Regions from separate parts of the Homo sapiens genome. Here regions 2, 3, 4 and 5 are each linked to region 1. Evidence: fine-mapped expression QTL. A gene starts in region 1. Each other region holds a variant in brackets. All regions are shown on one strand. Distances are from middle to middle.

The links. PIP is the estimated chance that this variant, and not a neighbour inherited with it, causes the effect.
Region 2: its variant is fine-mapped to the expression of TMOD1 in whole blood (TOPMed, PIP 0.96).
Region 3: its variant is fine-mapped to the expression of TMOD1 in whole blood (TOPMed, PIP above 0.99).
Region 4: its variant is fine-mapped to the expression of TMOD1 in blood mononuclear cells (TOPMed, PIP above 0.99). The same link has a PIP of 0.9 or more in NK cells, T cells, Th1/17 cells, follicular helper T cells, monocytes and whole blood.
Region 5: its variant is fine-mapped to the expression of TMOD1 in cerebellar hemisphere (GTEx, PIP 0.92).

What each region holds. Positions count from the first base shown.
Region 1 is chr9:97,498,645-97,505,002 of GRCh38, forward strand. It overlaps TMOD1 (tropomodulin 1), which reads left to right and starts at 3,022. Exons shown (of 10, transcript NM_003275.4): 1 at 3,022-3,159. RefSeq lists a silencer at 2,839-3,558, an enhancer at 4,945-5,089 and a cis regulatory region at 5,008-5,025.
Region 2 is chr9:97,590,828-97,597,185 of GRCh38, forward strand. It overlaps TMOD1 (tropomodulin 1), which reads left to right. Exons shown (of 10, transcript NM_003275.4): 9 at 464-608. Among named protein-coding and RNA genes, the nearest start is that of TSTD2, 39 kb to the right of the region's middle. The variant C/A (reference allele first, on the strand shown) is at 2,501.
Region 3 is chr9:97,521,435-97,527,792 of GRCh38, forward strand. TMOD1 (tropomodulin 1) reads left to right here. Exons shown (of 10, transcript NM_003275.4): 2 at 2,707-2,874. The coding sequence starts at 2,755. Among named protein-coding and RNA genes, the nearest start is that of TMOD1-AS1, 8.1 kb to the left of the region's middle. The variant C/A (reference allele first, on the strand shown) is at 2,715.
Region 4 is chr9:97,572,221-97,578,578 of GRCh38, forward strand. All of the region lies in intron 8 of TMOD1 (tropomodulin 1), which reads left to right. Among named protein-coding and RNA genes, the nearest start is that of TSTD2, 58 kb to the right of the region's middle. RefSeq lists a silencer at 591-830. The variant G/A (reference allele first, on the strand shown) is at 2,809.
Region 5 is chr9:97,530,786-97,537,143 of GRCh38, forward strand. The region is part of intron 2 of TMOD1 (tropomodulin 1); the gene reads left to right. Among named protein-coding and RNA genes, the nearest start is that of TMOD1-AS1, 17 kb to the left of the region's middle. RefSeq lists a silencer at 61-219. The variant C/T (reference allele first, on the strand shown) is at 3,152.

The DNA.
Region 1 (6,358 bases):
CCTCGGGAGGCCGAGGCTAGCAGATCACTCGTGGTTAGGAGCTGGAGACCAGCCCGGCCAACATGGCGAAACCCCATCTCCACCAAAAAAATACGAAAACCAGTCAGGCGTGGCGGCGTGCGCCTGCAATCCCAGGCACTCGGCAGGCTGAAGCAGGAGAATCAGGCAGGGAGGTTGCAGTGAGCCGAGATGGCGGCACTACAGTCCAGCCTCCGCTGGGCATCAGAGGGAGACCGTGGAGAGAGAGGGAGAGGGAGAGGGAGACTGTGGGGAGAGGGAGAGGGGGAGGGGGAGGGGGAGGAGTCCATTACTTTTTAAAATAAAGCAATAGATTGTTTCTTGATGTAACCACAAAATTAGTGCTAAGTCAGTGTGACACAAACAAATGAAATGTGAATGAACCCTTCCTCATACCATATTCAAAAGTCAATTCCAGATGGATTGAAAACCTAAACATTGGCCGGGCATGGTGGCTCATGCCTGTAATCCCAGCACTTTGAGGTGGGCGGATCACTTAAGGCCAGGAGTTTGAGACCAGCCTGGGCAACGTGGCAAAACCCTGTCTTTACCAAAAAATTAGCTGGATGTGGTGGTGCACAACTGTAGTTCTAGCTATTCAGGAGGCTGAGGTGGGAGGATCACCTGAGCCTGGGAGGCAGAGGTTGTAGTGAGCCGAGATCGCGCCACTGCACTCCAGCCTGGATGACAGAGACCCTGTCTCAAAAAAAAAAAACAAACAAACAAAAAAAAAAAACAAAAAACTAAACATGAGGCTGGGCACAGTGGCTCGCGCCTGTAATACCAGCACTTTGGGAGGCTGAGGCGGGAGGATTGCTTGAGCATAGGAGTTTCAGACCAGCCTGGGCAATATAGCAAGTCCCCTATCTCTACAAAAAACATTTTTTTAAATAGCTGGGCATGGTGGCTCATGCCTGTAATCCCAGCACTTTGAGGGGCTGATGTGGGGGTTAAGGGGTTGGCTTGAGCCCAGGAGGTTGAGGCTGCAATGAGCCGTGATCACACCACTTTACTCCAGCCTGGCCAACAAAGCGCAAGACTCTATCTCAAAAACAAAAACAAAAACAAACAAACAAAAAACCTAAACATGAAAGGCTAAGGTGGGAAGATAACATAGGAAGATAACTTTATAACCCAGGAACAGGAAAGAGTTCTTAAACAGGACACAGAGTGCTGCCAATAAGGGAAAAGATTGCCAGACTGTATTTAAGAACACCTGTTTATCAAAATACGTTAATAAGGTGAAAAGGCAAAAGAGTGGAATATAACTGAGGATACACACACCATTGAATCTATTCAATACACAGGACTATCCAGAAGAAAAATGGACAATAAATCTGAACAATTCACAAAACAAATCCAACTGGCCAATAAATATGAAGTGATACTCAACACATTAGGATATAGGGAAATGCAAGTTTGAACCTCAATGAGATACCATTACTCACATATCAGAATTTCTAAAGTGTTTCAATTTTTGTAACTTCAAGTGTTGTTGAAGATGGGAAACTGCACTGTACAATGGTACTATAACTTTGGAAGAGTTCAGGCTTATCTCTGCCGAAGTTGAGGTTAGGCTTTCTCTATCACCCAGCACTTCCAACAGCAGGCTGTGCGCGTGGACAGGAGGATTCTGGCAAGGAATGTTCGCAGCAGCACTATTTGTAATAGCTAAAACCTGGAAACAACCTAAATGCCCATTAATAGTCAAATGGATTTTTTTTTAAACTGTGGCATATTCATACAGTGAAAAACTACAGCTGCATAAAACCACAGATTAACAACAGATTTGAACAAATGAAGACATACTACAGAGGGAAGAAAAAAAACAAGGACATGATCACCGTAAGGGTCAAGAAAGTGATCATCTTTAGAAGGGAGTTGGGACCCAGGAGGGACAGGTTGGCTTCTGGGCTGTAGGCAATGTTCTCTGAGTGACTGGTTGCACAGGTGTTCACGTTGTAAAAAGTCATGAAGCTGCACATTTATTTTGTTTACACATACAACATAACTTATGTTGTATGTTCTTATATGTTCGATTCACAACAAAAATGTTTTAAAATAATCTGAAATATTAGATCACTGCTTATTTTTAAATGTATGGCATATACCCCTTGAAAAGAGCGTTCTCATTGTGAGGACTTTAGAGAAATTCATTTTCTTGAGAAACAAAATTTGGTTAATGAGTGTTTCTCATTAATAATCTATACATCAGGATTAAGAGCTGATTTTATTAAGGTCTACCCTACCAAAAGCTTTCCCATAATAATCCAAAATAAGACGTTTTCCTATTTCTATATAAATTCCTTTGCATGAGACATTTGTTTATTAAAACACTTAAAATTGTATTTGGAATAAACCACCTAAAGTGGTTTGTTCTGAAAAAAAAAAAAAAAAAAAAAAGCCTTTTAAGAACTTGGGTCTTTTTGTTGTGGTCATTTAAAATCAGTATTTTAGACACTCCACTCGCTCTCAGTGTAGAGAGAATGTATTCGATTGCGTGTTGGAACTACGTGTAGACAAAACGATCGCGGTTAAAGCTTGCGGCTCAGAGCCCACCTGGCCGCGCTGCTGGGAAACGGACGGAGCGGCGCTTCAATCAGAGGTGAAGGTGCAGCAGCTGCTTAGCTGGCTTTGGTCCATCACTTCTGGGGACTTCAGATTCTCAAAATCTTAAATTCTAAACCCCACAGGAATGCAAATCTGCCCACCTTTTCCCACATAACTCTACCGTCGCTCAAACTCTTCCTGGTACCAGCGGGGAAGCGGAGGAGACCCAGGCAGGGGCCCGCGCTCGCTCGGCTGCAGCCCGACTCCCCTGCGCTCCCGGCCCAGGGCCGCGTCCCGACGGGGAAGTGCGCTGCGCCCGGGCGCCCCCGAGTGGAGGGGGGGGGAAGGAGGGAGCCGGCGGCGGGCGGGGCGGGGCGCGGTGACAGCCGAGCCGGGCCCGCCCCTGGCTCCCACCCCCGAGCCCACAGCTCCCGCCCGCCCGCGGCCGCCCGGGAGCTCGTCCAGCCCCGCGCTGCGCTCGCCCGCCCGCTGCCCGCCGGAGCACCGCGGCCTCCGCCCGCGTCCATCTGCCCGCCGCCCGCGCCTGTTCCGCAGCCCGCGTCCGCGCCGGCCCCACAGCTCTGCGTCCGGGTAAGCCCCCACCCCGCCTGGGGTCCCCCTCGCGCTCGCGGGGCTCCCTGCCCCCGCTCCGGGGCCTCAGCCATATCTGGGCAAAATATTCAGCTGTCGCCGCCGCCGCCAAGAGGGACTGAGCGTGGCTCCCTCTATAAATAGCTGCCGCCTCGGGTTGCCTCTGGGGCTAGGGAGCCCGGGTCTCGGGGTTCCGAGCCCAGCGCTCCCGTCCCCGCCTCCCCGCGCGCGCAGCCCTGGCCAGGGCGCCCTCCGCTCTGGACCTCCGCACCGCGTCTGTGAACGCGAGAAGGACCCGGGGTTCTGGAGGAGACGGCGCCCCGGGCTGGGGTCCTGGCGGAGGGGCGCCCCCGCCACCCGCAGGACTCCAGCGCGGCGGGGCTCTGAGCCCGCGGGGTGCTCAGCTGGGTACAGGTGCCAGCCGGAGCTGGGCTCGGGGGCGCGGCCTCTTCTCCGCCTGCAAGAGTCTGGGGGTGGGAGTGGGGGAGTAAAGGCTCGACTGGACGTGGATCCCAGGTTCGCGCTGAGAGTGTTTGGGGCAGGTGAAGTTTCCCAAACTGGGAGAGACAAGGTTTAAAGCACCACGACACGCGCTACGCGGCCAAGTGGAGCTGGAAAGAGCTTGGAGGCGGGAGCCCCAGGTTGTCGCCGGCTCTCGGCATGGCCTTGGCAATCCCCCTCTTGTTTCTGGATCTCAGTCTCCCATTTGTAGGGGCGAGGTTTGGTAGCCGCGATGGAGCTGGGAGCCCAAGCCCTGAGAGCTGCAGGGCGCGCTCTTGGCCGCCTGCGCTCCCCACACCTGTTCACCCTCTCCGGGCCTGGGACGCTGGGGTCCCAGCCGCGCACATGCGGAGACGCTGCAGAAATCGGAGACTGACTGCCCCAGACTCGATCGTATCCTGGGACTCACTAAGGCCGTCGGATATCCTAAGCCGTACAACCCTAGGAAGTGCACTTTTGGGGTGCCTATGGGCATCTCTCTGCTCCGTAGCCGGCAAAGCAGCCTGTGAGCCACGCAGCTTCAGATGCGATGAGCTGGGCAGGGGCAGTGGTTCCAGTACAGCCGCTCCCTGGCCACAGTTTCCCGGTCTATATCGGGCCTATGATGCGTCCTCCAACCTGCGCAGCGCCGCCCCCTCCTACACCCTTCACCCACCGCTACTATTACAGACCCTGTCTCCAGCCCTCGCCCTATGCCCTCAGACTCTCGGAGACGACCTGGCCCAAGCTCCTCCGTGTCTGAATCGCAGAACCAGACCCTGAACCCAGGTGCTGGGCCCTCAGCGTGAGAACCCCTAGGGCCCCCACCCCATCTTTCTTCCAGAGGTGACTGCCATTTTGTCCTCTGTGCAGGGCCGCAGAGCCCCCTGCTCAAGGTCACACAGGGCCGGTCACGCCAGAAGTTCTGCAGTCTCCCAGCCTTTCCCATCTCTTTCCGCACCCTTCCCACTGCTCAGGCAGGTCCGGGAGCTCTGGGAGCACCCGATCAATGCCCCCTCTTCTTGAATCTGCTGCTGTTCTGGACTTTACCTTGTCTGGACAATAGCGCCCTCATCCTGAAGTTTCCTTTTTGCTTCTACTTTACTTTCTGTTATGTGTTTTTTTCTAAAGCCATCTCAAAGACTTACAGAAAAAAGAATTAACGGGAAATGGAGTCAGATAATAAAGTTTCCATCAGTTAGAGCCACACAACCAACAGGCAGAGTGAAAACAAGAATACTGTCACTTTGGTGTATTATCTTTAATGAGCTAGTCTTACAAACCCGTGTTTTAGAGAGTCATTGACCCTTGAGTTTCTCCCAGCCTAAGATGAAAGCCAGTGTCCTCTAAAAATAGCCTCCGCCCCACCTTATCAGGGTCTCACACCTTCTCCCTCCTTCAGGGTAGGGCGTTTTCTTGCAGCTCAGCAAAAACAGAAAACACAAAGTAGGTGTGGCAGCTCTGAGCAATGGGAGGTGGACTGGCCTGGAGGTTAGGATATCTGGCTCCAGCCCCAACTCTGCCACCCACTCAGAGGAACCTTGAGCAATGAGGGGGCAGACAAGGTGGTCTCTAGTGGACCTGGAGTGGAGAGGGCTTAGAGTCTTCCTTGGAAGCCTTTCTAGCATGACCCATCCTGTAAGGAGGAGCTGGGGAAGGAGTGAGAGACAGTGGCTTTCCCAGGTGCCAAGGGAGGACAGAGGTGGGCAGTGTCACTTGCTGTGGAGAGACAGGAGTAGGGGGATGAGGACTGGGAAAAGACCATCAGGATTGGCAGGGATCATGAGTGACTTAGACCAGGGTATTGCAGCAGGCTCAAAAAATGAGATCTGCCAGTGACCCAGCCTGTCTGAGCCTCGTTTTCTCCTCATACAATGGAGACAACAATAGCCCCATTTCATAGGGGCTGCTTGTGAGAATTAAGTGAGATGATTCAGGGCAAGCCCTCAGCCCAGAGCCTGATATTGCAATGATAGTATTCGTTGTGGTGAGGGGGAAAGGCAGGAGCTAACAGGAGCTGAAGAAGTTCTCCACTTCTTCAGGCTGTAGGCTGAAGAAGGCTCTCAACAGAGCCAGCAACTCTTTCTAAAAGCTTGGATGAGAAAGGAAGGGAGAGGGAAGGTAGCAGGAACTGAGGACAAGGAACAGAAGGGAGGCAGGCATTCTAGGATAAAGAGTATGGCAAGTAGTGAGAAGAACCCAGGAGAGGGGAGAGAGTTAAAGGGGAATCTAAAAGGTGTGCCCATAATGAGGATTGGGGACCTTCCTTAGTGACTTGCAGAATGTCACAGACTCTGCAGGTGGCCTTCATCCCCTGGAATGAGCAAAAAAAGGTAAAACGAAGCAGATCCTGGCTCAGACCCCTATGTCTCTGGCAGACCAGTATCTGCGATGGAGGATGGTGATGGGCTGTGAAGAGTGTTTTGACCCTGCTCTGGGGCCTCATAACCTTGGCTTATTTATTTCTGAAATGACATCATCTATCGATGACTCCTGCTGAGCCCGGTCGTAATGGCCTTTTCCAGTCAATGTTTTGACTTTTCAGTCTTACTAATGGACCAGCCAGGCTGCCAACATTTCTAAAGAGGCCAGTTTACTTTTCCCTTAAAGCCAGAACACCAGATAAATCAATTATTGGGCTGCTAGGAGCCATTATCAGTTTAAAACCACAGGCCTGTTTCTATGGAAAAGCATGAACCAGATAGCACAATTCCGGGCC
Region 2 (6,358 bases), 92 kb after region 1:
TGGTTATCAGACTTGGGTGCATATTGAAATCTCCTGAGAAGTTTTTAAAAACACAGCCATCAGAGTCCCACTCCCCAGAGATTCTGATTCAGGTAGTTTGGGGTATAGCCCGGACAGCAGGGTTTTAAAAGTCTCCTTAGGACTAGATGATTGAATGTCCTCCTTCAAATACTCTTCTGTCGTGGAGCTCTTACTTGGGCACCTGCTCAGAGAGAGGCTGTTGTAAAGCAGTGAAAAGATCTGTTCTTGGCATCCAGCAGACCTGAATTTGAATCCCAGCTCATTTGCTCCTGGCCGTGTGACCTTTCAACTTCTCTAAACTTCCATTTCCCTACTCTTGGAGAGGAGGCTAAAATCCCCTCCCACTACTCAAGAGTTTCTGCAGGTAGAGGTGGTTTAGGCACTGTACACATGGAATGAGTGGTGATTTTATTTTTTATTTTTTATTTTTTCTTGACTAAAGAGCCAGCCCCTGGGCAACAAAGTGGAAATGGAGATTGTGAGCATGTTGGAAAAAAACGCAACACTTCTCAAATTCGGCTACCACTTTACCCAGCAAGGACCCCGGCTTCGGGCATCCAACGCAATGATGAACAACAATGACCTTGGTGAGTAGAAATATGCTTCCTGCCCTGCCCGCAGTCCTGTTATTCCCTCCACCTGTGCTGGGGATGTCAGGGAAAATTCTGTAGATGCCTCTCCGAGTCTTCTTGAGCCTTGATTTTCACATTGATCGCGTCTTCCTTGTTTTCTGTGTTTGTACCTCATCTCCACCCTGGACTACGAGCTCCTTGACTTCAGGAGCTAAGGCTGAGTCCTCTCCTCCTCAAAGCACAGCTCAGCACAGGCTGGGCCCAGAGCACACTTAAGTGTGTTTGCAGAAGGAACTGAAATTTGGGAGGGCACAAGTCTCGCCGGGAGTATTTTCCTCTTCTGAATACCCTTTTCTGAACTCATAGCGTCCTCTCCAGGTCACACAGTCTAGATTTAGCCCCAAATCCCAAAACTACCTTCCAATAGGACTACCAAAATCTGAGCCTAGGAGACTTCACATTGATTTTAAGGTAAAAGTTGAAAATGTCAACTTCATAGTAAAGTAAAAGTAGGGTATATTAATGTAATCTCAATTAAAGGCATAGTTTGTTTTTTTCTAAAAGGAAAAATTATTATGAAGGAGACATTATCAGGAAATTTTAAAAAATAAAAAAATTAAGAAAATGAAAATATCACAATATTTTTTGATAATGAACACTTATATACCTATATGAACAAATAGGTATATAAGTCAACTGAATGAAGTTTGAGCAATCATGATCTTACTTGCAGATGCCGGTTGTTCACAAGCTCTGTGTAGTTATTGCTTATGTATATTCCTGCTGGCTGCCAAAAAAGAATTTGATATAGCATTCAACAAAGGGAGCATGACTGACAAGGCTATAGGAAAACAAGAGGGGGAAAAAAAACAAGAAAAGCAGTAGGTCTATATCATTAACATGAATGATGATTATATTGAGCCCTGAGTTTCCTAGAACCAAGACAGCAGGAAGCCAAGCCAAGTTACATTATTCTTATCACAGAAGGGAAGGAAGCATAATGAGTTTGAAAAAAAAAAAAGAAAAGCCTCTTTCTGGGACTACATTGTGAAATGAACTTGTGTTTTAAAGGACAGCATCTTCAGTGAGTTTCTCATCAGATTCAAACCTGCTCTACACAATGGTTTCCAACCCTCGATAAAATGCAAAGAGCCTAATATGAATGCTCCACTCAAAGTATGTCACTTCCTGGTGATTTATCTGAGGCCAGGTCACTACCTGGAAGCCCTCGAAGAACAGAGATGAGTGTGTAGGAGTGAATGCTCAAGGCAGGTGTGCACAGACCCCACATGCACAGATAACCACAGGATTACACACACACACACACTTTAGATCGAGTTATTAAATTCCACAAACATATACCAAAATTCTATAGGTTCCTGCTTGTAAGGATGTCACAGCCCAGGAGCTATTCATTCATTGCTCACTGCAAATGCCACTATTTTCTAGAGCCTCGGGTTTAGAAAAGCCCATTTTTTAAAATGTGTGCAGAGTCTTGGTTTATCAGAAGTATCCTTACTTGAAATAAAATAAGAACAAACACAAATAAGAATCATAATTATTACATCATCTCACAGATGTCATAGCTAAACTGAATGGTTGGAGAAGGCCAGCAGCTGTGATCTGGCTGCAGTACCAGCACGGAGAAGCCTTGCGTTTCTATTCTATATGCAATAATCTCATATTTGTTTCCCCCTCAGTTAAGTTTCTTCTGTGCCCCTTGGCTCCTATCTCTGGGCTAACCCAGTTTTTGTCCTCCAATGGCATGATGGTATGGAGGTCTTGTTTCTGGGGATAGAGGCTCTAGATGAGCAGAGGTCACAGGTGCTGCAGGGGGATACCAGCATCATCTAGGAGTTGGACAAAATGGCCTTTGAAAACTCTCCCAGTCCTGTGAATCTGAGAGT[C/A]CAAAATTCAGGCCTGACTCCCATCACCAAGAACTTTCAGAGGCCATTGTAAGAATGTAGGATGGTAGAACCAGAAGGACTTAGAGCTTATCCCTCCAGTTCCCTTAGAAAGAAACTGGAGCCTGGGGTGGGGGTAGGGGGTCTAGGCAGCAGCTCAGTCAGGTCACACCAGCTGTTAGTGACAGCAAGCATTTTCTGGGCAACTTTTGTGTGCCTAGGACTGTGCTAGGTGATATCAGAGGTAGCAGAAAGGCTACCTCTGACTGAAGAAGCTTTATAACCTTTTAGGGGAAAAAAAAGACTCAAAGGCATGCCTAAAAATTCAAGAATGCCTACAAATTCTATCTAAACAAAGTGAGGAAATGATTTATTGAGACAGAGGCCAGTTAGGCAAAGCATGCTGGTTGGGGATGGGGCTTTAGCCAGCCTTGAAAGGAAGAGATAGGTTGATGGAGGAGGTCTAGAGGCATCCCTCTGGGGGTTCTAGGAGTATTAGGAAGTAGTGCTGGGGGTACAAAGGAGAGACAGAAGGATCTAAAAGGATTGGAGGAACTGTTAAAAGGAGTTAGACCTAGGAGGAAAAATGAGTTCACAAAGTAGGAAGGGAAGGGCATTCCAAGCAGAGGGAACAGCATGAGCAAAGGCAGGACAGTTGAAAGTATATGGGATGTTCACAAGGAATGGGGCTGGGTAGGTGTTTGGGTGGCTGCAGCCCAAGGCCTTTAATGTCAAGCTCAGGGGCCTGGCGATGGAAGCAGGTGGGAAGCAGAGACCGTGGCAGTTTCCTGGACGGTGATGCCAGGTGATAAAATTGGGCCTCTGGGTTACCCCAGGGAACTGTGGGCAGCTGCTCCCTTGGGGTTTCCTACAGAAGGAATTAGAGATGAATCATCTCAGTGATTACAGGGAACAGAGTGCTACTTGGTGATGTAGGATCTCTAGCTTTAAAATGAAATTTGCGCCCATCTGCTAATTTTTGTAAGAGAAATGTTTGTTATGGCAGTGCCTCAGCTTCCTCCTGACTTTACAACAGATTATTTGCATCCTACATTAATGCCGCAGTGAAGCAGACAGACTTCATGTTTTCCAACTGAATATTTGTATCGTAAAAGCCTCCTGCCAGCTCCTCCTCGGGACTGAGGCTGTTAGCAGGCCTGGCAGCAGGGAGCGCAGATTGGGAAGGGAGCAGGCCTCTCAGGCCTCCTGCTCATTCTCACCTGCCTCTGCTGGCTCTTTGCCCATGGCTGGGGCCTCTGCAGTACTTGGGCTCCTCCTTGGGGGACATTGAGTCCCCAAGGCTATGAGGACAGCGACTGGCTCTGCAGACAGGCGGTATGCCCAGGATGCATCCTGACCAGTGCGTCTTCGGTCCTCCCCACCCTGGGCACCAAGCTCTAAACAGAGCGTTCTGTGAGTGCAGGGTGCCAGGGAGGAGCCGAGCTGTGGATCCCATCTGCGTTTTCCCACAGCAATACCTCAGATGACTGTCATCTCCACACTATTTATAGCAAAGAGCCAGGCCAAGCATGGCACTTCAGGTCCTCTAAATCTGCCACTGCAGCTCTCTCCACTTAGCAAAATCTGAATTGCAGCCTGTGAGTTAAGACAGTTGTGTGGGTTGGGGTATCGTGTGGAGGGAGAGTAACATGTTTAAAAGCAGAAAACATCCCTTCCTGGGAGTCACCATTTTACAGTATTCTCAGGGAAGACCTTTGCAGCAAGCAGCCCAGACATAGCACACTGCAAAGCAATTTCTAAAAAAAATGTATTTTATTGTCAATTGACAATTTGTAATTGTATATATTTATGTGATACAAAGTGCTGTTATGATTTATGAATACAATGTGGAAAAATTAAATTAAGTGAATTAGCATATCATCACCTCAAATACTTTTTGTGGTGAGAACGTTTATTTTTTAGCAATTTTGAAATGTATAATACACTATTATTAGCTATATTCACCATGCTGTGTAACAGAGCTTTATAAAACACCTTATTCCTCTTGTCCAACTGAGATTTTTGTATCCTGTGGCCATTATCTCCCCATTCCCCACCCACAGCTTCTGTAATGACAGTTTTACTCCCTGCTTCTATGAGGTCAATTGTTTTAGATTCCACATATAATTTGTCTTTTTGTGGCTGGCTTATTTCACTTAGTATAATGTTCTCCAATTCCACTCATGTGGTTGCAAATGAACAAATTTCCTTTTTTTTTTTTTTTTTTTTAAAGAAAAGGCTGAATCGTACTCCATTGTGCATATATCCCCCAGTTTCTTTATCCATTCTTGTTGATAGACACTTAGGTTGATTCCTTATTTTGGGTATTGTGAATGATGCTGCAATGAACATGGAGTGAAACATCTTTTCAACTGATTTTAATATTTTGGGTAAATATCCAGAAGTGGGACTGCTGGATCCCAAATCAGTTTCATCATAGTCCCCCAAACCTATCTCAGAAAAGGCAGCCAGGTACGGTGGCTCACACCTGTAATCCCAGCACTTTGGGAGGCCGAGGCAGGCGGATCACCTGAGGTCAGGAGTTTGAGACCAGCCTGGCCAACATGGTGAAACCCTGTCTCTACTAAAAATACAAAAAATTAGCCGGGCATGGTGGCAGGCACCTGTAATCCCAGCTCCTTGGGAGGCTGAGGCAGGAGGATCGCTTGAACCCGGGAGGCAGAAATTGCAGTGAGCCAAGACCACACCATTGCACTTCAGTGTGGGCAACAAGAAAACTCCATCAAAAAAAAAAGAAGAAGAAAAAAAGAAAAGGCTACTCCTTTCCTCACAGCCACCCAAGCCAGAAATCTGGGCCTGTTCCTAGATGCTGCCTCCACCCCAGCCAGCCAGTCACCTCCTTGCCAATCCCAGTGTCCTGCCGTGTATGTTGAGCCCTCGTCACAGTTATCTCCTCCAACATCCTCAGGCCCCCAGCTCCTCCAGGGCAGGCACCCCTGGCACTCATCCCAAGTCTCCTTCCGAAGCTTGCCTTGTCACCCCTCCACTTAGAACCCTCACTTGCCTCCCATTGCTCTCAGTCAGGCCCCTTGAAATGACTCCCAAGTCTCTTAATAATAGCTGACTCTTACATGGCACTTACTGTGTGTTAGAGACTGTTCTGAATACTTCCCATCTCACTAGCTCATGTAGTCCTCCCCACAACCAGGTGAGACAGGTGCTATTGTTATCCACACTTTACAAGAAGGAAACAGAAGTCTAGGGAAGTAGGTAATTAACATTACCCACAATCCGTGGGCAGGACCGGGATTTGAATTGGCAATGTGGCTCCAGTGCCTGGGTGCTCCACATTGGGAGATGGTCCCATCAGGAGGTCGTCTCTTGACATCTCCAACAAGCCATCCCTTTGCCATGTTACTACCATTCCAGGTAGCCTGAGTGCCCCCAAGTGACCAAGGAAAAGCTTACCCTTAGAGGGTCTTTACTCCCAATGCCCCCCACCTTCCCATCCTCTACCTTTTTGTTGTTTAAAATTCAGCTGACCTGTTAGTTGCCACCTGGGAAGGTCTGACCACTTCATTCTTTATGCCTCTCATACCTCAGAGAGCTGCCAGGGCATCTCTAATACTTCATATTTCTCAAACAGTAGTTCTCAAACATTGTATATCTTGGTTCCTGTTATACTGTGTCTTTACTTCTGATTCTTGTGCTTGGCACACAGCACTCAGTACATGCTGCCGAATATTTAAATGAATAGAAAGTGCTTTCCAAAAACATGATGGAAATGTTCAAATTTGGCAAGAAGTGGCAGAGGAGTTCAAGCAGCAGATGGAGGTTGGTCCGGACGACTGGAGAGCCCTTCTGGCATTCACAATAAAAGGAGTCTCTGGCTCTTGCAAT
Region 3 (6,358 bases), 23 kb after region 1:
TGGTTCTGGAAGACTCCAAGCCCTTCACTGGAGTCCCTCTTGGCCCCAGCACAGAGATCATGGATCCTCTCCCCATCCTGGCTTCACTTAGGAAAAGCCAAATTAGGCTGTTTTCTGAGGGCCTTCAGGAAGGTTTTTTCGTCGATACCAGAGCACTGTCAGCTGTGCTTTCTTTGGAAGTAATAGAAATGGATCAAGTGATGGGGGGCCATTTATGGTCTGAGCATTGCATTCTTGGGGCCTGGTCAAAGAGGACGTTAGGCCAAGCTGAGCCATTCTGAGAGAAAAGGATGGCACTGAGGTTTCTGTATTTGGGAAGCAAGTCCTTCTTATCAAGCCAGCTGTCATATACTTGGATTTCTCCTGCAAATAGGCCGACACATGCACAGGCTTACACTGATAAAATGTGCTCTCTGCTTTCTGAGACAGAGACTTTTTCTGTTAGCTTAGTGAACTTTGGTTTTCATTTGTTTTAGATGCCTTTAATTATTTTTCATTAACAACTATTCCCAGGTTTTGGATCGATTGGTTGACTGTCCTTTCCTAGTTTTCATTTTTCTCTACTTTAGAAAATTCCATCATCATTTCACAGATGAGCCACGGGTGGGTTGGTTGGTTGGCTTGCATGGAGGTCTAAATACGTACGTTGCTGTGAAGAAGGTCATATCTGTTACATAAGTTTGCCTGGGCTGCTGGAACACAGTTCCACACACAGCGTGGCTTAAATAACAGAAACGTACTGTCACACAGTGTTGGAGGCTAGAAGTCTGAGATCAAGGTGTCGGCAGTGTGGGTTCCTTCTGGGGCTGCCTTCTGGTGGCTTGCTCTCAATCTTTGGCATTCCTTGGCTTGTAGTAGCATCACCCCAATCTCTGCCTTCATTGTCACATGATATTCTCTTAGTGTGCTATATCTGTGTCCAAATTTCCCGTTTATAAGGATCCCAGGTAAAATATATTGGATTAGGGGCCCACTCTATCCAGTAAGACCTTGACTAAACTTAACTACTTATATCTGCAATGACCGTATTTCCAGGTAAGGTCACATTCTAACTTGCAATGTGTTGCTAGGTTACTGAGATACTGGGGGTTAGAACTTCAACATATGAACTTTTATTTGTATTTTATTTATTTATTTACTTTTTTGAGACTGGATCTCACTCCGTCACCCAGGCTGGAATGCAGTGGCGGGAACATGGCTCACTGCAGCCTCGACCTCCTGGGCTAAAGCGATCCTCCCACCTCAGCCTTCTGAGTAGCTGGGACTATAGGTGCTGCACGACCACACCCAGCTAATTTTTGTATTTTTTGTAGAGGCAGGATCTCACTGTGTTGCCCAGGCTGGTCTCAAACTCCTGGGCTCAAGCAATCCTCTCACCTCAGCCTCCCAAAGTGCTAAGATTACAAGCATGAGCCACTGCACCCAGCCTTATATATGAGTTTTTAGGAGACACATATAACTCATCACACTGATTCTATGCACAGTACTACATTTAGCCAAGCTGGAGGACAATAGCGCTCGAGGTCCTGCTGTCCCTCCTAGCTCAGCGGAGGCAGTGTGGTGGAGTAGAGAGCACCCTCGGACTGATGTCAGGGGTCCTGAGTCAAGCCCTAGGCCATCCCTTAGTTTTTTCACTAATAAAAATGTTTTAATTAAAAGACCTATTAGTATCCAAGAAGATCTTCAAGGTATAAAAAAGGGGAAAAAAAAGTGTGTGTGGAGAGGCTCAGATGAGTTAACAGGTCTGAAAATGTCATGGTTATGGGAAGTAGCAGAGACAGGGTCCAAACACACAGGGTCCAAATGCGTTGGGTGTCATCTGTGAAATGGGAAATGAACAGTAGGCTTCTCCAGCAAGAGAGAGCAGTCTGGGAAGCAGCAGAGGTGAACCCTGGTCCCCAGGGTCCTGCTGGCAAACCAATTCTTCCCTCTGAACCGGCTCCCTCTGGGGGGAAATGGGGGCTCTGGACTAGGCAGTCCCCTGGCCACGCCATTGGGTGACTCCGCAGAGAAGGTCTGCAGCCAGCAGACCTGAGTTTAAATGTGGATCTGCTGCTTCCTAGTAGTGTCGTTTGGGTAAGTCACTTAATCTCTCTAAGTCCTTCTCTATAAAATGGGGATAATGGTAATACCTACCTCACAGGTTAAATGAGAAAGTCCTTGTGAAGTACTGAACACACAGCTTGATATGCAGTAGTAAAAGTTAGCTATTTCTATGAACTACTTTTTGTAAGGATTGAATGAGATGGTGTAGGTGAGGGGCCTGTATGCAGTAGGTGCTTAATTAACCACCGATACTCCCCTGCCCCTTTTAAACTCAGTTTTGGCAGAGTTTCCAGCATTCATGATTCCCTCTGGGGTGTAGGGTGAAGGGTGGAGAGTTACACAGAAAAGTATTTGAACTCCTTAAAGAATAACATTGTTTTCAGGCACTCATAAGCCATTTACAATTGCCCATTTACTTGTAATTAATGTCCATGCCAATTCTAACCAATTACAATTCATTAACTTACATGCTCTCAGGACTTTACCTTGCACAGTTTTATTAGAGAATTAGCCAAACTTAGTGTAGTATTCCACCATAGTAATGATTATCCTGGCAATTCATAAAATGTACCCAGGCCGCTGTGTGAACGATGAGCCTCCATTTGCTCTGAGAGAGCAAATCTGAGACGGGTCTTTCTAAGGTTCTTGTCTTTCTGGTAGGTATTACT[C/A]AGCACAGAAATTCAGGAGACACAGACAAGTTCTTCCACGATGTCGTACAGACGAGAACTAGAGAAATACCGTGACCTGGATGAAGATGAAATCCTTGGAGCCCTAACAGAGGAAGAGCTGAGGACCCTGGAAAATGAGCTGGATGAGCTGGACCCTGATGTGAGTAGGTGCTAAAGGGAAGCACATTGTCACTAGCGAGGGGACCTGGGGAGGGACAGGTGGATGCTTCCTAAAGCCACCACTTCCTTTTTCCTTCCATGGCAATGACATTGGTATAACTTTGCCTTTGCAGATTTTTCTTTTAATGTGTTGTATTAGGGTTCTCCAGAGAAAGAGAGAACCAATAGGGTGTGTGTGTGTGTGTGTGTGTGTATGTGTGTGTGTGTGTCGAGACAGAGAGAGAAGGGGAGAGAGAGATTTGTTATAAGGCTTTAGCTTGCAAGGCTATAGAGACCAGCAAGATCTGCAGTTGCTAAGGTGGAGACCCAGGAGAGCCAATGGCACAGTTCCAATACAAATACAAATAACCAGCAGGCCGAAGACCCAGGAAGAGTTGGGTCTGGGAAAAGATGTTTTAGTTTGAATCCGAAGGCAGAAAAAAGCCAATGTCCCAGCTCAAGGCAGTCAGGCAGGAGGAAATTTCCGCTTACTTGGAGGAGGGTCAGCTTTTTTTCCCTACTCAGGTCTTCAACTGATTGGATGCCCACCCCCCACCGCCATATCAGGGGGAATAATCTGTGTTACTCAGTCTACTGATTCAAATATTGGTCTCATCCAGAAACACCCTCACAGACACACCCAGAAAAATGTTTGACCAAATGTCTGAGCATCCCATGGCCAAGTCAAGTTGACACCCAAAATTAACCATCACAGTCTACCCCTTGTCAACTTGGCACACATATACATCTCTTTAAACCATACTTAATTTCCAAATAAAGACAGTAACGATGTCATAATTCTGCCTAACATGATACAACTATCCTGGGTACAATGGAAAACACACTATCACCTTCCCCAGAAGAGGAGGTAAAGTCCATGAGTGATGTTTATTCTTCTCCTTGCTGTCCTGTAACTTAAATATTATAATGTAAAATTAATGATACTTAAATCCTATTATACAAAGCCAATACACCAATAACAGTAAAGTCGGTATCAAACAATCTTGTGTTACATGATAAGGGAATAAGAGAGGGAAAAAGCAAAGATATTTGCTACACACACACACACAATACAAGTGTTCATAAAATAAGGAGGAAGTACTCATGACAATTACAGTCTTCATTTCTGTAACTACTCAGATAGTTGTAGCTGGTATTTATAACTACCCTGTTTCATTCCCCATTCTTTGCCTTTAGCAAGCACCTCAGCTGGTTGTGGTTCTTTACCCGATGGGGTGACCTAAGCTTTCATTTCTGAAAGGCCTAGGCCATTAGTAGTCCTGCCTGGATTAGTTTGTTGTAGTTTTCCATTGACCCTAATCACAGGGCATGGTAATACTAAAAAACGCCCTAAGGGCTCTCCTGTATCCAGACATACTTTCTTACCTCCCTTGTGCAATAGCTATCCAATTTCTCCTTGGTAGTCAGCATCTGTCACCCCAGCCAGCCCAGTAACTCCCTTCTTTGCTCATTGATTCAGAGTCATGAGGAGCCCAAAGTGGCCTGGTGGCAGTTTTAACTTCCATTTTAATGGAATTGTTGTGTCTCCTAGTGGAACTTTGGTCCTTTGAAACTAAGACTTCTAGGCCAGCAGACCACAGGGTCATGGGAACAATGAACAAAAGTTTTGCTAGTGCATCACTAGGAGAAATGGTGAGTGGTGCCACTCCTATTTCCAATCTTGATTCCCTGACCCATGAATCCTAGCTATGGGAGAAATGGCATCCGCAATTGCCCACTGATTCAGAGCATATACAGCCTTCTGGAGAATGTTGCCCCGGCCTGTAAGGTGTGGCCACCTAGCTGGCACTGTAACTGAGTCTTCAAAAGGCCGTTACCCCGTTATATCGAGCCAGCAGCTTCAGGATGGTGGAGAACATGTGTCATGGAATGAATGAGCTGAGAAATAAAGGACCAGAATAATTCTTCTCATTTAATGTTTGATGTTTTATCATTGCATTTCATAGTTGGCACATTTAGAAGTGTGTTTAATACTCAGAATTCATCCCTGCAGTCAGGGTACACAGTGTCAAGAGTCAAAAGTCTCTTTGGTTGTGTATGTGGTTTAGCAAGTCACACTAGAACTGTGAGCATGGGCATAGAGGGGTTCGTAGGTGGCCTCCTAGACAAGGGTCTTCATCCTACAGCTATATCCCAGGCACCCAGGTCAATAACCAGCACAGAGAAGGTAGATAATCAAAGTTACTGAACTGAGTAAATGTTCCATGTTATATATTTTTAATTAAAAATGGAATGTATCACACCCTTTTTTTAAACCAGCCATTGCTCAACTCTGGTTTAATAGTGATCCATAAAGAAAACAACACTTCAATCTCACTCACCCAGAGATGGTCACTGCTAACATCCCGGGAGCACAGTTTGATGAAAAAATGCAGGACTAGAAGTTAGGTGTTTCGCTTCCAATCCCAACCCTGTCTCTTCCACTCCATGTGACCTTGGACCAAGCTGCCATCCTTCCTAGACCTCAATGTCCCCAGCCATGGAATAGCAGAGTTGGTTGGTCATTTTCAGGGTTAAGCTAACCTGACTTATAATCTGGTCTTATACCCAGGTGTGATTAAGTGGCTTCATTCCAGATAACTCAGAATCCTTGCCTAGGGCTCTTGGGTCCCAGGCCCCATAGAATTACACATCTCTCCAACAGTGTGTCCTCCTCTTCCTGATATTCACGATCTTCCCCTGCCTGCCAGGAGAAGATGGTTTCCTGATGAGGCTGCTCAAGTTGATCAAAAGTCGGCATTGGTGGAAAGAGCCTTGCATTTCTCTTTCTTCCCCCGCATCATCTCTCCCCATTAGCCTGTGTTTCAGTAAAAACAAGCCATGTAGGCAAGAAAAAAATCAAGCTGCAAAATTATTCTGTTCTAATTCTATCCTAGATCACTGTCACACAGAATTCCAAGAACAAACAACTTTATAAAGGGAGAACAAAAGAGGCATGTAGCCACTTCCAGTTAACTCAATAAATGTGACTCGGTTACCTGCCGAGCACTGTGCTGGGCACCAACAGGGCAGCCTGGCTGGGACTCTGCCTTTCAGGAGCACAGGCTGGTGGGGACACAGGCATAATACACTGAGCTTGACACAGAGCAGACAGGAAGCTGTGCCAGGAGATTAACTCTTACTGGTGCAAGGCATCACAGAGCAGGTGATACTGGAACTGAGCTCTGGATTTTTTTAATTCCATGCCGAGTGAGGGCCTTTGAGAAAGGCCGCAAGGAGAGTGTTGTGTAGGGAAGGAATTGGGGATGGGAATCTTAGTGTGGTTTCTGTGGAGGGTCAGATGCGACTAGAAAGAGGGGTTGGGATAGATAACGCGGGGGAAGAGGGGGCGGCAAGGCCGACTGACGGGTTTAGACTTTGCTCAGTGGGTTCAGGGAGCCCTTGAGGGTCAGAGACTCAGAGGGGTTTTGGGAGCTGATGCTGGGGACACATGGACTGGAGGGGTGTCAGGGAGATGGGTGAGA
Region 4 (6,358 bases), 74 kb after region 1:
GAGAGGAGTGGGGAAAGCCATGGAGCCCATCCACACAGGCTCACGGTACCCCCAGAGGAAAGCCAGAAAGGGGGTTAGGAGTCGGAGAGCTTTGAATGGGTAGGTTTAGGGAAAGTGGGCTGTGCTGTGCTCTGGGAAGATGGTTCTGGCTGGATGGGAGGGGACTGGGGGCAAGGAGAGGGTATCAGGGCCCAGGAGATCAGCCAGGAGCTATGGCCTCCAGGACCAGGGGGCTGTGGGGAGGCGCTCCTGCCTAACTGGAGTTGGGTCCGGCAGGGGAAGGGCTGAAGGCAGGTCTCAGGGAGGGGGCTCTGCTGACTCAGGCTCAGGAGGAGGCCACCTGTGCCTCCCCTTCAGGTGCCCCAGCCCCAGGCTGGGGGGAGGCAGGGCAGTGTGACACAGAGGAGGTGGCGAGTGGCATTTGATTTATTCCTTTATTCCTCATTCCTGGTTAGTCACCGAGGTCCTTGGAGACGGGAGCTTTTTCCTCAGTCCTGTGCTTATAACCTGTGGCAGCAAGTCTCTGTCCTTCTTTCTCCTTATACGGCCAGGGAAAGGGACTTGGGGAGTTCTGCCCAGGGTGACACGGAGCTGGCTCAGGACACAGTTTGGGAACCAGGACTTTGAAGCTGTTTGTTGACTCAAATAGTCTCTCTATCTCCAAGCAATGTTCTGTTGCCACCTGTGGTTGCGCCAAGACCATGGTGAATTGGGAAAGGGCAGAGCAGACCCCAGAGCCAGAAGGCACTGAGACAACATCTAGCCCAGTCCTCCTTTCACAAGCGGGGAAACTGAGGATGAGAGAAGGGATGGGACTAGCCTGAGGCCACAGGCCAGGTTAGTGGCAGAGCTCGGTTGGAGCTGCAGTATCCTGGCTGCACTGATGGATGGATGGGAGAAACCCTGTGGGCCCCGAGGGAGCCTGCAGGCCCGGCCCAGGCCAAGCAGGCCATCTCCACACACGGCTTCTGTGCTGCTCTCACCAAACTCTCCAAACTCCCCACAGAGCTGCTCTTCCCCAGGACCCCCAGGGCACCAGGGACCCTGCTCCCCAGGCCAGACAAGGCCTGGGGTGAGTCCCACAAATGAGAATATGTATAATGTCTGGGGTAGTGGCCAGATTCCCCACTTTTTATTCCAATATTTGACAATGAGGATGTGCTTAATATTTTGAAGAGAAGTTAAAGTAGATGGATTGTGCTGTCTTGTTTTCCCAGATTGGATGATTTGTGTCTGGCTTTTTTTACTCAACGTTGCGATTGTATCAGTTTTTTGTAGCTGTGTAACAAATTATCCCCAAATATAGCAACTTAAACAGCCTCAGAATCCTGGCATAAAACAATAAACATGTATTAACTCACCATTTCTGAGGGCCAGGAATCCAGGAGCAGTGTGGCTGGCTGACTTCGCCCAGAGTGCATGATCTGAGGTGGAGAAACTGCTTCCACCATGGCTCCCTCACAGCGTGGGCAGGAGACCTCAGCACCTTACCGTGTGCACCCGGCCTAGGGCTGTTGGAGTGTCCTCACAATATGGCAGCTAACTTCTCCCAGAGTGAGTGAGCCAAGTCAGAGAAAAAAGAAAGCCTCAGATGCCTTTTATGACCCAGCCTCGGAAGTTACACAAAGTCATTTCCACCATATTCTGTTTATTAAAAGTGAGTCACAAAGCACAACCCACACTCAAGGGGAGAGAAATCAGACACCACTTTTTGGAGGGGGGAGGATCAAAGAATTTTGCAGATATTAAGTCATCACAGTAAGAATTATCTATATTATTTTGTGTCACAGGAGTTGACCAGAAAGACCTCTGTAACTGAGAGGTGACAGCATGCTGGCAGCCCTCACAGCCCTCCCTCGCTCTCGGCGCCTCCTCAGCCTTGGCGCCCACTCTGGCCGCGCTTGTGGAGCCCTTCAGCCCGCCGCTGCACTGTGGGAGCCCCTTTCTGGGCTGGGCAAGGCCAGAGCCGGCTCCCTCAGCTTGCGGGGAGGTGTGGAGGGAGAGGCGCCGGCGGGAACCAGGGCTGTGCGCGGCGCTTGCGGGCCAGCGCGTGTTCCGGGTGGGCGTGCTCTCGGCGGGCCCCGCACTCGGAGCGGCCGGCCGACCCCGCCGGCTCCGGGCAGTGAGGGGCTTAGCACCTGGGCCAGCAGCTGCTGTGCTCGACTTCTCGCCGGGCCTTAGCTGCCTCCCCACGGGGCAGGGCTCGGGACCTGCAGCCCGCCATGCCTGAGCTTCCCCCACGCCGTGGTCTCCTGAGCGGCCCGAACCTCCCCGACAAGCGCCGCCCCCTGCTCCACGGCGCCCAGTCCCATCAACCACCCAAGGGCTGAGGAGTGCGGGCGCAGGGCGCGGGACTGGCAGGCAGCTCCACCTGCGGCCCCGGTGCAGGATCCACTGGGTGAAGCCAGCTGGGCTCCTGAGTCTGGTGGGGACTTGGAGAATCTTTATGTCTGGCTAAGGGATGGCAAATCCACCAATCAGCACTCTGTATCTAGCTCAAGGTTTGTAAACACACCAATCAGCACCCTGTGTCTAGCTCAGGGTTTGCAAATGCACCAATTGACACCTGTATCTAGCTACTCTGGTGGGGACATGGAGAACTTTTGTGTCCACACTCTGTATCTAGCTAATCTAGTGGGGAGGTGGAGAACTTTTGTGTCTAGCTCAGGGATTGTAAACGCACCAGTCAGCACCCTGTCAAAACAGACCAACCAGCTCTCTATAAAATGGACCAGTCGGCTCTCTGTAAAATGGACCAATCAGCAGGATATGGGTGGGGCCAGATAAGAGAATAAAAGCAGGCTGCCG[G/A]ATAACGCAGTGGCAACCCGCTCGGGTCCACTTCCGCACTGTGGAAACTTTGTTCTTTCTCTGTTTGCCATAAATCTTGCCACTGCTCACTCTTTGGGTCCACACTGCCTTTATGAGTTGTAACACTCACCGCGAAGGTCTGCAGCTTCACTCCTGAAGCCATCGAGACCACGAACCCACTGGGAGGAACAAACAACTCCAGAGGCTCCGCCTTAAGAGCTGTAACACTCACCGCGAAGGCCTGCAGCTTCACTCCTGATCCAGGAGACCACAAACCCACCGGAAGGAAGAAACTCCTAACACATCCGAACATCAGAAGGAACAAACTCCGGACACACCGCCTTTAAGAACTATAACACTCACCTCGAGGGTCCGCGGCTTCATTCTTGCAGTCAGTGAGACCAAGAACCCACCAATTCCGGACACATAACTAGCAAAGCTACCTCAGGATGGAGCAGGTATCTCAAAGGGGGAGGAGTTCCCATCCTGGGGGTGTGTAAACAGCTGGGAGATGGAGGGAATTTTAATGTCAGTTAGGGTCTGGGACTCTGGAGTTGGATAACCTAATTCCCAGGCCTCCTTTCTGTTGTGTTTTGAAGTATTCCCAGTTGTCCATATCATCTGGGAATGGCCAGAATTGGCTCCGTCAAATGTCCAAAGTGAGATTCTTGATGTTCCTGTTGCGTCTGGCCAGAAAGGGAGCCTCAGAGCCACCGGCTCCAGGATACACCTTGTAACACCTAAGGTGTTGGTTGGTAATTTTGTTCAAGAGCAAATCTGATCTCTTTCTCATCTGATGGGTAATGCTCTGACATGGTAAAGGTGTGAGGACACACAGCTGTCACACACTGCTGAAGGGCATGCCGACTTTTACATCCTTTTGTCAGAGCAGTCTCAATTTTAATTTGAAAGCGCCTATCTTTCAACCTAGCAGTTTTGATTTCCGTAGGAAGCCTGAGGAATACCCCCTCCCTCCCCTGCCACTGCCACGTTGTTCGTAACACGAAAAAACAGAAGTAACCTAAATATCCATCTACACCAGGGCGTCCCGTGAAGCCAATAGAAGGAATAAGGTCATTCTCTACATACTGACTCTGAAAGAGCTCTGCAAAATATTAAATGAAAAAGGTGGGCTAGGCATGACAGCTCATGCCTGTAATCCCAGCACTTTGGGAGGCCAAGGAGGGAGCTCACTAGAGACCAGGAGTTCAAGACCAGCCTGGTCAACATAGCAAGACCCCATCTCTGTAAAAAAAAGTAAAGGAAATTAGCCAGACATGGTGGCACGTGCCTGTAGTCCTAGCTACTTGGGAGGCTGAGCAGGAGGATCACTTGAGCCCAGGAGTCAGAAGCTGTAGTGAGCTATGATTGCACTGCTTTGTGCTGCTGCACTCTAGCCTGGGCAACAGAGTGAGACACAGTCTCCAAAAAAATAAATAAATAAATATTAAAATAAAATGAAAAAGGCAAGTTGCAGAACAGTAAGTATAGTATGAATTCATTTAAACAAGAAACAAGTACCACAAAACAAAACAAATCCCTGTACATTTCTGTCATATACTTCATGCATAGAAACACAACTCATTGGCCATGATGGTTACTTTTTTTTTTTTTTCTTTTTTTGAGACGGAGTCTTGCTCTGTTGCCCAGGCTGGAGTGCAGTGGCACGATCTCGGCTCACTGCAAGCTCCGCCTCCCAGGTTCACGCCATTCTCCTACCTCAGCCTCCCGAGTAGCTGGGACTACAGGTGCCCGCCACCACGTCCAGCTAATTTTTTTTTTTGTATTTTTTAGTAGAGACCGGGTTTCACCATGTTAGCCAGGATGGTCTCGATCTCCTGACCTTGTGATCCGCCCACCTCGGCCTCCCAAATTGCTGGGATTACAGGCGTGAGCCATCGCGCCTGGCCCATGGTGGTTACTTCTACGGAAGGGGGTGGGACTGGGAATAAATCGGGTGAGGGAGACTCTTTCCTTTTACTCAATCTGTGTTAATATCATATGAATTGTTAATAATGTGGTTATATTTATTCACAAGTGGTTTTTTACTTCTCAAGCAAATCTGAAGGAGTATGAGAGTTCTTTCCCAACCATCCTGTCCCTGGCTCTGCTGCCCAGAGACTGTTGCCAGTCCGGGCATGACCAACCCCTTGGTCTCTCCCCCTTTACACACTTTCAGGCACAGGCAGCTCACTACCTTACCAGGCAGTTCCTCAGCGTGTGGACACTTCTAATGGTCAGAGGCATTCCTCCATGCTGAGCCAAACACCATCTGCGTGTAGTTCCTCTCGTCAGTCCTACTTCTGCCTTCTGGTCATTCTCAGAGGCACTTAAGTGAGGTGGAAACCAGCACAGACTCTAGAGCTCGCTGCCTGTATTCAAATCCTGGTCCTGCAACTGACCCATGCTAGGATTTGGGAAAAATTTCTTAATACTTCTGTGCTTCAATTTTTTTTGCCTATAAAATGAAAATAATGAGGATGGGCATAGTGGCTCATGCCTGTAACCCAGCACTTTGGGAGGCTGAGGTGGGTGGATCACTTGAGGTCAGGAGTTCAAGACCAGCCTGGCCAACATGGTAAAACCCCATCTCTACTAAAAATACAAAAATTAGCTGGGCGTGGTGGTGCTACTCAGGAGGCTGAGGCAGGAGCATCGCTTGAACCCAGAAGGCAGAGGTTGCAGCAAGCCAAGATCGTGCTATGCACTCCAGTCTGGGCGACAGAACAAGACTCCATCTCAAAAAATAACATAAAATAAAATAAAATGAAAATAACGATAGTAGTTTTCCTTAGATTGACAGGAAAAATTCCTTAGATTGATAGGAAAAAATGAATTAGCTTTTGTAAAATGTTTATGACATTGTTTAGCATGCAGTAATCACTAAATAAGTTACTTGAAAAATAAGTCAGAGAACTGGTTTTTAGTCGTGGCTCCCCAGCCACTGGTTCTCTCTTCTATAAAATGAATGAGTCCTTTTAGTCTCAGGGTCCCCGGAGTCAGAGAAAGATGCAGGTATGAAGCTTCTTTGACATCTCTTTTTTTGGAGACAGAGTCTCACTCTGTCACCAGGCTGGAGTACAGTGGCATGATCTCAGCTCACTGCAAACTCCGCCTCCCTGGTTCAAGCAATTCTCCTGCCTCAGCTTCCCAAGTAACTGGGACTACAGGTGCGCTCCACCATGCCCAGATAATTTTTGTATTTTTAGTAGAGATGGGGTTTACCATGTTGGCCAGGATGGTCTCGATCTCCTGACCTCGTGATCCGCCCGCCTCGGCCTCCCAAAGTGCTGGGATTACAGGCGTGAGCCACCGTGCCCGGCCGAAGCTTCTTTGACATCTTAAGGCTTACTGTAAGGTGTATGCACGTGTTCTATTTTACTCCTTAATGTAAAAAGAATGGGTTTGCTCTGAGATGAACACTCCTGGAAGATCATGATTATCTAATGGAATCCTGTACCTTGTCGCACATGCCCAGACACATCTGTGTGTATCTAGGGTACTGGACACTAATGTGAGAACTGGGCCTAGAGGAACCTGGGGCAGTCCT
Region 5 (6,358 bases), 32 kb after region 1:
GCTTTTTTTTTTTTTTTTTTTGAGACAGTTTCACTGTTGTTGCCCAGATTGGAGTGCAACGGCGTGATCTCGGCTCATTGTGACTTCCGCCTCCTAGGTTCAAGTGATTCTCCTGCCTCAGCCTCCCAAGTAGCTGGACTTACAGGCGCACATCACCATGCCCGGCTAATTTTTGTATTTTTAGTAGAGATGGGGTTTCACCATGTTGGCCAGGCTGGTCTCGAACTCCTGACCTTAGGTGATCCACACCCACCCCCCCCACCACCCCTTGGCCTCCCAAAGTGCTGGGATTACAGATGTGATCCACTGCACCTGGCCTCTGCTAAGGTGTTCTTACATGCCAGGTGCTATGCTAAGCATTTTATGGGCATCATTTCATAAAATATTTACAAGGATCTTACAAGATTGATCCTCATAGGATGAGGTTTAATGTCATTCTGTAGATAAAGAAATAGGTTCCCAGAATCACACAGCTATTAAGTGATAGAATTCAGACAGACCCTGCTTTCCTTAGACCATAATGTGTCAAGAGTTCTGAGAACAGGCTGGGTGTGGTGGCTCATGCCTATAATCTCAGCAGTTTTTGGGGCCAAGGCAGGCGGATCACTTGAGGTCAGGAGTTCAAAACCAGCCTGGCCAACATAGAGAAACCCTATCTCTACTTAAAATACAAAAATTAGCTAGGCGTGGTGGTGCGCAACTGTAATCCCAGCTACTTGGGAGGCTGAGGCAGGAGAATTGTTCGGACCTGGGAGGCGGAGGTTGCAGTGAGCCAAGATCATGCCACTGCACTCCAGCCTGGGTGACAGAGCAAGACTCCATCTCAAAAACAGAGTTCTGAGAACAAAGGGCCATGAATTGCAGGACGAAATATGGAAAACAGAATTGGAGAATCCCAGAGCTCCAAGGACACTTAGAAATCATCTAACAGTACCCCACCCCAGGCATCTACATACGCGGTACCGGTAGAGAAAGCCTGATTTTGGAGTCTGTCCTGGACACACTTGGTGTTTTATGTATTTCATCAAATCCTCATACCCATCCTGTGAGGTGTCATTATTACCATTTCACTGATGAGACATCCAAGCATCAACAAAACCCTGAAGTGGAAAGAGGGGTAAGGACTCATTCAAGGTCACACAGCAAGTCAGCGGCCGAGCCAAGGCGCCCACCTGGTACTTCCTGTCACTCCACATGGCTTCCCATCAGACGATCATAAAATCCTCCCTACTTGTGCCCCAAATCATATCCTTTAAGGCAAAGACACTCTTGCCATCCAGGAAGCAGCCAAGTTTGGTCCACAGGGCCGTGATTCTCCTTTGTAACACAAACCGGCAGAATCGCAAGCCCAGGACAGAAGTAAACAGTTGAAATGGAAAGAAATAAATCTCTCCTCTAAAAATAGGCACACATCCTTAGAAACACTGCTGGCTGTGCACAGAGCCGAGGATGGGCCTGGTGGGGTGAGGGCAAGTCAGGCCAGGCATCTGTGTGTCCCCACCCTACCCTCTGCCCTCTGGACCCATGACCACCTCTCCCAACCCCTCCTCTGGCTGGGGAACCTCCTCGACCTGGAACCCCTCACTTCCTCACATTTTTCAAGGCTTGACCTTTCCTCCCCTCCCTCGGGAAGCCTTTTAGACTCTTTCACCTTCACACCCCTAGCACAGCACCTGCTCCACCCTGGCAACACTGAGCTGTTTCCTATTTGATTTTGACATGTTGAATAGGAAACATTTTAAACACATAGGAGAGTACAGTATATACCTATTTTCTCATCATCTGAATTTAGCAAATGTTAAAATTTTGCCTTATTTGGTTCTGATCATTCTTAAAAAAAAAAAAGAAATCACTACAGATAAAATTTAAACCCTGCCTTTCTGTCTCCCTTTCTATTCATCATCTCTGCCACTCTACTGAGCGCTTTCTATTGGGAGGCAGCAAACCAAGTATCCACAACATCATGTAAGTGACCTACATGAAGGAAGGAAGATGGGTCAATTTTCTTGAGCCATGTGGTCATCTTGGCTTATCTATTACTTTCTCACTTTATAAAGGTATGTGTATGTAAGAAAATGTTCACTTACCATTTACATTTTCAGAACTAAAAGCAACAGCAAAACCAGTGCTATGTAGTAACTGACCGTGGCCTCTGTGTCAGAGAAAACAGGGAGTGGTGGGGACTGAGGCAAATGGGAGTTTGTCTAAAGCGCCCAGCATTTTCAGCTCCACTAATTGTTGCCGGTATGAGAGTGCAGACCTGGTATTGCCACGTCACCTAATGTTTCCAGAGATGTTGGAAATCTGGATTTTTAAAAAATGTATAAGCTCCTTATTTTAAAATGCTGACAGCTTATTTAAATGCACAGACCAAACAAACCCAACCAAGTGTTAGCTTTTAATTGGCCTGTAGGCCTCTCAGTTTGCAGCTCTGGTTCTACCTCCTATGGCAGGTGTTTGTTTTAGCATAAAAAATAGACACATACACAAACATATACATGTGTGATTAGATGAAAAGCACCTAGCCCAGTGCCTGGCACGTGGTGGTCCTTAATAAATGTGAGCCTGAGTATATGATTTGTCCACTAGAATCTAAGTTTTTTGAGACTGGGAACCATACTGTATGGCCACAGATACAGTGCAGCCAGGTATAGTTGTGCAAGTTGGACACTTTCTCCAGGAGACACTGTTCACATAGACTAGAGAGTGAATAATGTCCTTGGCTTAGTGCAGTGCACAACCTGCACAACCAGATGTGACTGCCCTGACAGACCACCTCCATAATGCAGTGTCTGTTCAGTTGAATGAAAGTGAATGATCATACCCAGTGATGGTAAAACTGAATAGCAAGAAACTGCTTCCATATGGAGTTTAAACCTTTATTCTGAGGTTTCAAGATAAAAGGGCTCTGGACCCTCATTTTACAGATGGGGGATCCAAAACCAGAGAGCACCAGTGCCCCGTCTGTGGCCTCACAGCCCTGGGCTGAGAACCCAGGTTATCAGGTAGGGTGCAGCTTCGCTACAAGTAACAGAGACTCAGAATAATGTGATTTGTGCAGTGTTTTATCCATCCCTCAAGTAAAAGTCCACAGGTAGGCAATCTAGGGCTGGGATGGAGCTCAGCTCCCCAGACTTCTCAGAGTCCTAGA[C/T]TTTGTCCAGCTCATCTTTCTGCCATTCCTAAGGTGTAGCCCTATAGCCATAATAGCCACATTCCAGGCATCCAAATAGAGAAAAAGGGATGGGGAGGGGGAGGGATAAAAGAAAGGAGAAAAGCCATGATTCAAGTCCCTTTTAAGGAAAGTTACCAGAAATTGCCACTGGACATTTCTCATATCATTGCCTGGAACTTAATTATATGACTCAACCTAGCTGCAAGGGAGCCTGTGAAGTGTAGCCTTTAATCTGAGCAGCCAAGAGCTCAACTAAAAAGTGGAGGCTTTCTTTTATTGCTAAAGAAGGGGAAGCTTGAATCGGGGACGATTTGGAGTCTGTCACTGTGGGTTCACTAGTGTGATGGCCTGATGTTCTACTCTGCTGAAAGCCCTGAGATGGATTGAGAGGAGTTGGCAGGACTTTAACCAAATCCAGGCCCTCAAAGTAAACATTATAAAGGTCTCACTCTCTAGCTTGGCATTTCCCAAAACCCACGACAGTGAACCTTGGTCTCATCCTAGACACTCCCCAACTCTGACATCTTTCATAATATGTCCCTCTCCCCAAAACCCAATTGGGGACAGCAGCTGGGTGGAAAAGCCAATGGCTTGGGACAGCAGGTGCAACATGGGCCTGAAGGGAGTCCAAGTCATACCATCCTGTTCCCAGCTGGAGCATCAGTGTTGTGTGACTGGACAACTCAGACCACATTCTCTTAGCACTCATGGCTTGGTGCTGGGGATTCAGAGAAAATTAAGATATATCCCAGCTGGCCCTTGAAGGGCACCCAGTATCCTTAGGGAGAGAGATACAGCATAGATATGCTCCACAGAGTAAGATGAGCATTATTCAAGAACTGGCAAGATGCCTAGGGGAGTTTGGAGCAAGATTCACCAGGTCAGTTTGGAGAATCCTGCAAAGGCTGAACAGGGTGCCCAAGGGAAGGGCTTTGAAAGATGAATGCAGGGGAGCTGGAGTGACAGAATTCCAGGTGGAAGGCACAGCCTTGAGCAAAGGCATGGCAGTGGGAGAGTGCAGGGCGTGGCTGTGGAATATGGAGCAGCCTGGAGTGGCTAGAACATGGGCTACTTGATGAAGGGAAGAGGCTCAGGAGGCTGGAGAGGTGGGAGTAGGTTGGAGTCAAATCATGAAAAGCTCTTCATGCCTGGCTGATGAATTGGTCAAGAATTCGTAGGTCAGGGAAGTTGGTGAGCATCTCCGAGTATGCTGGGGAGTGATGTGGTCAGGTACACATGTCAGTGGAGTCTAAGGAGCAGAGGTAGAGAGGCCTGAAGCAGGAAACCAGCCAGGAGGCTTCTCTGCTGGTCCCGGCAAGACTCACAAGGGCTGGAACGAGGGTGATGCCCACAGAAGGAGACATTTCGGAACACTGCAGCCTCAGACCCTAATGCCTCCCCTAGCAGGCCATGCCGCCCTCATCTGCTGGGCCTCTGCTGCACTGTGCTTTCTCTCTCCCTGCGATGCCCCTGCACTCCCTCTCTTCACCTGGCTGGCTCTTCCCTGGTCCCTCAGACTCAGTTCAGGACCACCTCCTCCAGGAAGCCCAGGGCTGAGTAAGGTGACCACACCACTGAGATGTGTATCTCCCCTGTGGCTGTGAGCCCCTCTGGGCTGGGATCGTACCGTCATTGTCTCAGGATACCCAGTCCCCAGCACAACAGGAACATGGAACATTTTCCCTGCACATGAGGCAGGAAAGGAGGATTTGGAGAAAGCCAGGGAGGGAAGGTTTGTCCCCACCTTGAATACCAGAGAGAGACTGTGCTGCTATGACAAATAGGTACCACCACAAGCAATTATTGGGTTTCAGCTACAGGAGTGCCTTTGGACGTCGGCATTAATGCCCTGTAAAGTTGACTGGGGAAATGGCAGCTATTGAGTTTCACCAGCCCTGCATCAAGGTCAGGGCAGCTGAGCCAAAGGCCTAGCTCTTTGTGGAGAGAAAGCAAAGAGAGGGAGGAAGAGTCCCAGAGTGTGTATGTTAGGGCAGAGGCTGTGTCTGGAGGGGGTGGGGCTCTTAGAGGTTTGGATCCTGCTGGTCCCTTTGTAACATCAAGACGCTGTGACTGAGGCAAGAGTTGGCTCACCCCGCTGCCCCTGCCACACTCTCAGGCTAAAGTATGTGAGAAGAGCGCTCCACTGCATCATTTCCAGTGGGATCTGGAAGCTGCTGGACAGTAATGCAAAGGCAGAACTCTGTATATTGGGATGGGACCATAAGTGCCTAAGTTTTTCATAAGGAGAAACCGACCTGGCAGATAACTGGAAAATAAAATCCTCAAGGCCAGTTAAAAACTTTTGTTTTCCAGTCAAATCCCTTGTAAAAGGCAACTAGGGGAGTTGCTGGCCTGTGATAGGTTTGGCCTGGCCTGGCCTGGCCTGATGTGGAGGCAGGTGGGCGTCTAGGGCACACTTAGGTTAAATTGTTTGAAATGGGAGGAGGGAAGAGGAGTCAGCTGGAAGTTCGAAAAGTGAGGCCACTTTGGTTTCACTCCTACCCCAGGACAATTACTCAATGCCCCTGGACCTCGGTTTCTCCATGTGTAAACTGAGACTCATTTGATAAGCAGGGGAGTCTCCACTCCCCTGCTTTCTAACACTTGTGGAGGAGACCTGGCTCTCACGTGCGGCCACATCTGGTTTCCAGGATTTGTTCCCAGAGGACGGCAGTCAGGTGGGATGGAAAATTTTCTGTGGGATGGAAGTCAAGAGTCCTGGGCTCTCGGTCCAGCGTATGACTTCAAGTGAGGCCCCTCCCTTCCCCGGCCCTTGGCTTCTTCCAATCCCTGATAAAGAGGTTTTACCACCTGTCCTGTCCTCTTCCAAGAAGCTGTGTGTAATTCAGTCACAGAATAGGAACCTGGGACCGCCAGAGCCCAGACCCAGGGGTCACGTTTTGCATTCCCTTGTTCTTAGATATAGCTGATGTATTTGGGAAAAGTGATAAAAATTCCTTGTTTTTTTGTCACTGTGAGGAACCAGGTTAAGGGGTTTTGCATGGTTTTATGCATGGTGAGCCACCAGTCTGAAGATAGTTATATAGATCCTTGACCATGCTAATATATATACATGCTAATTATATACAGTGTCATTTTTATGTAAGCTCAGGCTTCCCAGCTATGAGGCTAACAAGCTATGTGACTTTGGGCCAGTGACTTCAGTTTTCTATGCCTCAGTTTCCC